Homo sapiens: one gene and its partner. The protein of the gene in region 1 purifies or fractionates together with the protein of each later gene. This does not show direct contact. Each region holds a gene or a part of one and is shown in the gene's direction. Other genes may lie near its edges.

Region 1 (3,943 bases):
GATGTCCCTACTTTGGCCTAGGGTGGATGTGGTGGAGGTGAAAAGTAGGTGGATTGTGTTATATGAATGAATATGTGTAAAGGATTTTGAACAGTGCCCGGTGCATAGCAAGTGCCTAACAAATGTGTTTTTATATTGCAGACACGTGGTGGATTGAATGAGGGAGGGGAGGGAAAGGGTGATGTCAGGGATAACCCCCAGGTGCTGGCTCAGGACATTGTACTAAGTAGGAGGTGGGACATGAAAACTGAGTATAGATGATTCTTTTGAGAAATGTGGATGTGGAGAAGACAGAGCAATTCCTTACATGTGGACAACACTCTAAAACACTTTTTAAAAAGTTAATAAATACATGTTTATTGTAGAAAAATCAGAAATTAACGATAAAATTTTAAAACAGGGCAGAGACCAAAATAATTTAAAAAACAACTGTAAGCTCTACATCTCTCCTGATCAGTGACTAGGGTTGATTTTTTAAATTTATTTTATTTATTTATTTTTTGAGACAGAGTCTTGCTCTGTTGCCCAGACTGGAGTGCAGTGGCGCAATCTTGGCTCACTGCAACCTCCGCCTCCTGGGTTCAAGTGGTTCTTTCCTGCTTCAGCCTCCAGAGTAGCTGGGACTACAGGTGCGTGCCACCATGCCCAGCTAATTTTTGTATTTTTAGTAGAGACATGGTTTCATCATATTGGCTAGGCTGGTCTCAAACTCCTGACCTCGTGATCTGCCCACCTCGGCCTCCCAAAGTGCTGGGATTACAGGCGTGAGTCACCACGCCTGGCCTAGCTAGGGCTGATATTTAACAATCAGGAAAAAGAGCCCCTGAGACCTTTACAAATGCAAAATTTGCAAAATCCCTCAAAGCATAACCTTCATAAAAGGCAGTAAGTAGAACTGCAGCTGGGTGGATGGGCATGTCATTCACTGACCTGACGCCCACAGAAAGAACTGCAAGTGTGATGGAAGAAAATGATGCATTAATTTTGGGGTTAACATAGTTTCAGTGCTAACGCCTGAGATTCTCTAATAAACAGAAAAATACTGACGGGGCTGAGGTTGGTGGCTCATGCCTGTAATCCCAGCACTTTGGGAGGCTGAGGCAGGAGGATCGCTTGAGCCCAGGAACTCAAGACCAGCCTATGCAACATAGCAAGACCCCCATCTCTACCAAAAAAAATTTAAAAATCAGCAGAATGTGCTGGTGTGTGCTTGTAGTCCTAGCTACTCAGGAGCCCTGATGGCACCACTGCACTCCAACCTGGACAACAGAGCGAGACCCTGTCTCAAAGAGAAAAAAAAAGAAACATGTGATGGCCAGGCACTGTGCTAGGTACTAGGAATACACAGGTGAACACAAGATGATCCCAATCTCATAGGACTTGCAAGTTTATCAAATAATCAACAAATAATTACAGACATTTGTAGGTTATGTAAGAAACTTTAAGATACCAGGATGGCTTTCGATAAAATACCATTGAGGCTACATGTCCATTGCACGTCCATATCCTTAGTACTTTCCTGAGAAGATTCCCTAGAAGTGCGATTTCTGGGTCTAAAGATCTGCTTGTTTTTTGTTTGTTTGTTTTTTTGAGATGGAGTTTCCCTCTTGTCACCCAGGCTGGAGTGCAATGGTACAATCTCCAGTCACTACAACCTCCGCCTCCTGAATTCAAGCGATTCTCCAGCCTCAGCCTCCCCAGTACCTGGGATTACAGGCACCCGCCACCACGCCCGGCTGATTTTTGTATTTTTTAGTAGAGACGGGGTTTCACCATGTTGGCCGGGTTGGTTTCAAACTCCTGAACTCAGGTGATCCGCCCGCCTTAGCGTCCCAGTGTTGGGATTACAGGCGTGAGCCACCGCGCCCGGCCTGTTTTTAATTAATTTTTTAACAACAGACTTTTATTTTTTAGGGCATTTTTAGGTTCACAACAAAATTGAGCAGAAAGTACAGTTTTCATATTACCCCTGCGCCCACCCACCTCCAGCAAGCAGCAATCTGTTCGCTTTCAAGTTTTATTTATTTATTTATTTATTGCATTTTGTTTTAAATAGAGTCTGGGGAAATGGGAGAAAACGCTGAAAACGCACAAGCACTTTGGTTGGTTAAATTAGGGTTCCGCCAAGAGCCGGAGCGGTGTGCCAAGTGAAAACTACATTTCCCACGGGGCAGCGGGTCACGTCACAGAGGAACGACTACGCATGCGTGCAAGGTCCTCCGCGCGCGACTACGCTCATAAAAGGAAAAAAAAGCGTGTGCGGTTCTCGACGTGCCGCCAATCTTCGAACGCAGGTCTGTGATCATCCGCAGACTCCGAAAAAGGGTTCGAGGAACGCGCCTGCTCCCCTCGTCGCAGTTTCCAGCCCGACGAGCTTGTTTTGTCCCGGACTCGGTAGGTGGCGACGGGCCGTGGCCTGAGACCTCCGGCGAAACGCGGGAGCGAAGGGCTGAGTCCTCCCTCCGCGCCGCGGCTCCCGACCTCCCTGAGGCGGCGCTCTAGGGGCGGTGCGCACGCGCTCTGGGCGGGAGGGGGGCGGGGCTCGTGGGGGTGGGGGCGGGAGAGGAGGGCGGGGCCGGGGCTCGGGGAGGGCGGGCCCTGCGCCCGGCCGCTCGAGGTCTGCGCTTGCGTGCTTCCATCCCCGGCGAGGGTGGGAAACAGCGACACGCTGGGCTCGGCACGGACGCAGCTTCCAGGTGGGGTACTCGGACCCGGGTCACGAAGATGCGGACAGAGGATGGGCCCCGAACTCCAGCACTTATTTTATGATTTGCACAAAAATTTTGTATATATATATAGTTCTTAACAAGATACACTAACAGCTCGTCGTTTGCCCAGGAGGCTCAACCTCCCGCCTCGGCCTCCCAAAGTGTGGGGAGTATAGGCGTGAGCCCCCGCGCCCGGCCAAAAAATGCCCGTCTTAAGAACAACAAAACAGCCTCCTTCACCCTCGCTATCCTCCAGTTACCTCCTCCTCGGCTCCGGTTTGCAGCCAAAGGCCTTAGTCTACCCTCACTAATGCCTTTTCTCCTCCAAGTCTTGAACCCTTGAGCCTCTAGTCAGGCTTTGGTCTCCACCACTCCACTAAAAAGGCTTCTTGTCAAAGCCACCAGTGATCTCTAGGTGGCCAAATGCATTGTTAAGTTAGGTCTCAGTCCTGTTCAGCATTTGATGCTGTGGATCACTGCCCCTCCTTGAAACACTGTTTTCATTTGGCTTGCTGAACGTTCTCTTCCTTTGCCTCTGCTCTCTCTGGCTTCTCCTCTGCTGATTCTAACCTAGGCATCATCTCACATTTTTGTTTTTATTAGAGACACGTTCTCTGTTGCTCAGACTGGAGAACAGTGGTGTTATTACAGCTCACTGCAGCCTCAAACTCTTGGGCTTAAGCAGTCCTCCTAACCAAAGCCTCCCCAAATGCTGGAATTACAGGCATGAGCCACCGCAATCCCAGTTTCACATTTTAAATGTAAATACTGGCCAGGCGCGGTGGCTCATGCGTGTAATCCTAGCACTTTGGGAGGCCGAGGTGGGCAGACTGCCTGAGCTCAGGGGTTTGAGACCAGCCCGAGCAACGTGGTGAAATCCAGTCTCTTCTAAAAAAAAAAAAAAAAATTAAAAAATTAGCCGGGCGTGGTGGTGCACGCCTGTAATCCCAGCTACTTGGGAGGCTGAGGCACAATAATCACTTAAACCCAGGAGGTGGATGCTGCAGTGAGCCAAGATCGTGCCACTGCACTCTAGCCTGGGTGACAGAGCAAGACCCTGTCTCAAAAAAGAGTTCTAGAGGTGGAAGAAAATCCACATATAAGTGGACCTGCACAATTAAAACCTGCATTGTTTGAGGGTCAACTGTATAGCTATTTTAAAAGAGATTTATTGTGATGGATTGGGTGACACTATTATAGAGGCTGAGAAGTCCCGAGATTTGCCATCTGCAAGC
Region 2 (3,600 bases), on another chromosome or scaffold:
GCCAGGCTCTTCCCATATGTGTCCTGTGGGATCTTCCTAGCAACCCTCGGGGGTGGGTTCTTATTCTTACAGTTGAAGAACAGCAGCTGTAAGAAACTAAGCGCCTTGTCAGGGATTCCATGGCATTCATGTGATAGAGCCAGGAATGAACGCAGGCCTATGTGATTCCAAAGCCTGGGCCCTAACCCATTCTGGGTGAGAGCATTAAGCAATGTGGGTCAGAGGCTGGGAGGCCATCGGTGCCACCGCAGGAGTGGCAGAAGGGCTTGACCTGATTCACTGGAGATTAGTGTGGAGGCAGGGCCTGGACTCATGGGCTGTGACTGTGAGTGTGGAAGGAGATGGTGTGGGGGCTGGCGACAGTGATGTGACGAAAGATGAGACCTGTTGAGTTCTACTTTCAGATGGCAAATGGTGACACCTGGCCTGGGGGTTGTACAACTACATGTGGGATTCATGGGAGAGGGTGGATTGTGGCCAAATCTGGCAGCTTTGTGGTCACATTTTGTACCAGGGCTGGGGGATGGGGCCTGAAGGGGACGGGATGTAGCTGAGCAGGGTTAACAGTGACACCTGGGGGCTTAGGGACAACCCGTGTGCTGGTGTGTATGTTTGATAGCGAGGGGCAGAGAGAACAGGTTAAAGGACCTTGGCTACAGTGGGTAAGAGTTGGCAAGCAGTGGCCTAGAGTCAGATTAGCGGGGTCTGGCGTCTCTAGAAGGCCGGTTTGTGATGGGTTCTGCGCAGGATTCCAAGAGTTAGAGGATGCAGGCCCTGCTGGAGCACAGGAACACAGACGCAAACACAGGTGACAGCTGAGGGCAAGTCGCAGTGGTGGCAGAGGAGCCGGAGCTGTTGATTGGTTGCCAAAGAAATTGGGCTGACACTGAGGAGCTTTAGGAGGGCCAGTGCTCCTCTGCAGGTGGTGGTCAGGAGGGCTTTGGCGGGGAAGTGGGGTTCAAGCTGGCCCTTGTGGTTTTGAATCAAATGAGCATGTGAAGTTCTCTGTGAACCATGGAAGGCCTTGTGCACACACGTCAACACTCAGGCTCCTTCTTGGAGCCAGGTGGGGTGTCCTGAGTAGAGCTGCACCCTTTGAGATGATGGTGGACACCCAGGAGGTGGCAGAAGGCCAGACACATCGATGGTCACTGCCTTGTGCGTGCATTCATTCTCTCGCTCATTCATTCAGTTAGCACAGCCTCGGGGCCTGGTGTGCGCCAGCCCCTGTGGTGAGAACAGGCTAGGAGGAAGACAGCTGCCTCACCTGGCAGGTGCCGTGTGGGCAAGTGGGCCTCAGGATGTCCTGCGGAGGGAAGGACACAAGATGGCTGTGCAGGTAGAGGAGAGTGTGGAGGAAGGAAGGGTTTTGTGTTTTAAGAGTCTGGTGTATTCAGGGCCAGGCAAAAGCCAGCTTGGGGTGAGGGAGGAAGCTGGTGAAAAGCCCTGGGTGCTGGGTACAAGAGTGTTGCTGGCTCAGGCTCTGTGATCACGCAGTGTCTGCTCGCCAGTGCCAGGCCCTGAGCAGGTGCTTTGACACGCGCCCCTCTCACCATCTCCCCGTCCCCTAATCCCTGAGACAGGTGCTCCCCACTTTTACAAACGAGGAAACAACTGTGGGTGATGTGGGAACGTGGAATTTCAACCCAAGGCTTCTGACTCCATGCCTAGAACCATCCGTTTCATTGTTCACCAGCCATGCCGCAGGATCCCCTAGAATTCCCAGGGATCCCCTGAGATCTGCTGGATTGTCACCTCTGAGGCCGAGGTCTGGAAATTTGGATGGATGGAAAGAACCCCAGGGAGCTGTGAGGCATGGTTGGGAACCATGGGAAGTGGGGACTTACCTTCCCCGCCGGGGCAGGAGCCTCCACTGTGCGGGCTTCCAGGGATGACCATTAAGGATGGCGGGAGGGGGAGGGAGAGCCCGGATGGGAGAGTGGCTGGGAGGGGCAGGGCACGCAGAGGTGGTCTCCAACTCCAGCCCACAGTGGGACACCCAGGATGCCTGGTTTACCTGAGTCACCCCCACCTCCCAAGCTGCTGAGTCAGGGGTGGGGCTTAGAATCTGCATTTCTAACAACCTCCTAGGTGCTGCTGATGCGGCCGCCGTGGGACCCCACTTTAAGAACCACTGGGGTAGAGTGGTAAGACATGTCACTTTATAAAACTTCAAAATTATTTAAAAATATATTGATTTTTATTGTGGTACAATACGTGTAACATAAAATTTACCATTTTAACCGTTTTTAAGTGTCTGGAAGCATTAAGTCCACTCCCAGTGTTGTACAGCCATCACCACCAGCCACCTCCAGAATTTTGTCATCTTGGCAGACTGAAACTCTGTCCCCATTCAACACTCACTCCCCCTCCCCCTTCCCCAGTCCCTGGCACCCCCATTCTACTTCCCGTCTGGCGCTAGGGACCTCAAATGCGTGGGTCCTGCAGGATTTGTCCTTTTCTGACTGGCGTATTTCACTTTGCCTCATGTCGTCAGGGATCATCCGTGTTGTGGCATGCGTCAGCACGGCCTTCCTTTCATGGCTGAACAATCCCTTGTCATCTGTGTGGCATAATGTGTTTATCTACATAGCTGTGACGGACATTCGGTTGCCTCCACCTCTTGGCGAATGTGAACAAGGCCGCTATGAAGATGGTGTTGAGGGATCTCGTCAAGTAAATAAAAGTGGAATTGCTAGGTTAGGTTCTGTGTGTAATTTTTTTTTTTTAAGGGTTTCGCTCTATCGCCCAGGCTGGAGTGCAGTGGCACAATCATGGCTCACTGCAGCCTCCACCTCCTGGGCTCAAGCGATCCTCCTACCTCAGCCTCTCAAGTAGCTGGGACTACAGGCATGTACCACCACACCCGCCTAATTTTTAAATTATTTGTAGAGACGGGGTCTTGCCATGTTGTTCAGGCTGGTCATGAACTTCTGGGCTCAAGTGATCCTCCCGCCTCAGCCCCCGAAAGTGCTGGGGTTAGGCTAAGCCTGGCCTTGTGTGTGATTTTGAGGAACCGCCCTGCTGTTTTCCACAGTGAGGAATGCCACTTTCAAAATCTCTGTCACAGTTAGCCTTATCTGACCTGAAGGTGTCAGTCACCTTGAGGGCCAATGACAACTCTAAGTCACTGAGGTCTCTGAGTTGAGAGAGACCTAGAACTGAGGCTTGCAGGGCTGCCCACTGGAACAGGCTGGGGGCAGTGGCCAGGGACAGTGGGGTCTCCGAAAGGTCTGACACCTGGAAGCAGTGGCTGCAAAGCCAGTAAGTCCCCAGCCTCTGGCATCAGAGGGATGCTTGTGCTGAGAGTTGAGCTGTTAGAGCAGGGAGGAGGGAAGGGGAAGATACAGGGGGTGACCCGGTGTCCTCAAGTTGTCTCTTTAAAGGTGACAGACAAGGCTGAAAGAGGGAAGAGCCAGGGGCCACCGCATGGCCGTGACTGAGTTGGTGTGCCAGCCCCGAGGGCTGTTGGCATCCCACGCCTACCTTTGCCCGGCCGCTCTGTCCTGCCGCTAGCTGCAGGTGGCCCTAGTTGTTGGCCCAGTGTCTGAGGCTGAGCTGAGACTGGAGGTGCTGAAGTGACTTTGCTGTGGAATGTGA

Evidence for each region.
Region 2: the proteins of SGF29 (region 1) and TADA2B purify together in Homo sapiens (affinity purification with mass spectrometry; 8 studies listed by BioGRID and IntAct, with this or other methods). This does not show direct contact.

Annotation. Positions count from the first base shown.
Region 1 is NC_000016.10:28,551,704-28,555,646, forward strand, and holds the start of SGF29 (SAGA-associated factor 29), read left to right. Parts: upstream 1-2,216; 5' UTR 2,217-2,394; intron 2,395-3,943. UniProt on the Homo sapiens protein: Chromatin reader component of some histone acetyltransferase (HAT) SAGA-type complexes like the TFTC-HAT, ATAC or STAGA complexes.
Region 2 is NC_000004.12:7,046,372-7,049,971, forward strand, and holds part of TADA2B (transcriptional adapter 2-beta), read left to right. Parts: intron 1-3,600. UniProt on the Homo sapiens protein: Coactivates PAX5-dependent transcription together with either SMARCA4 or GCN5L2.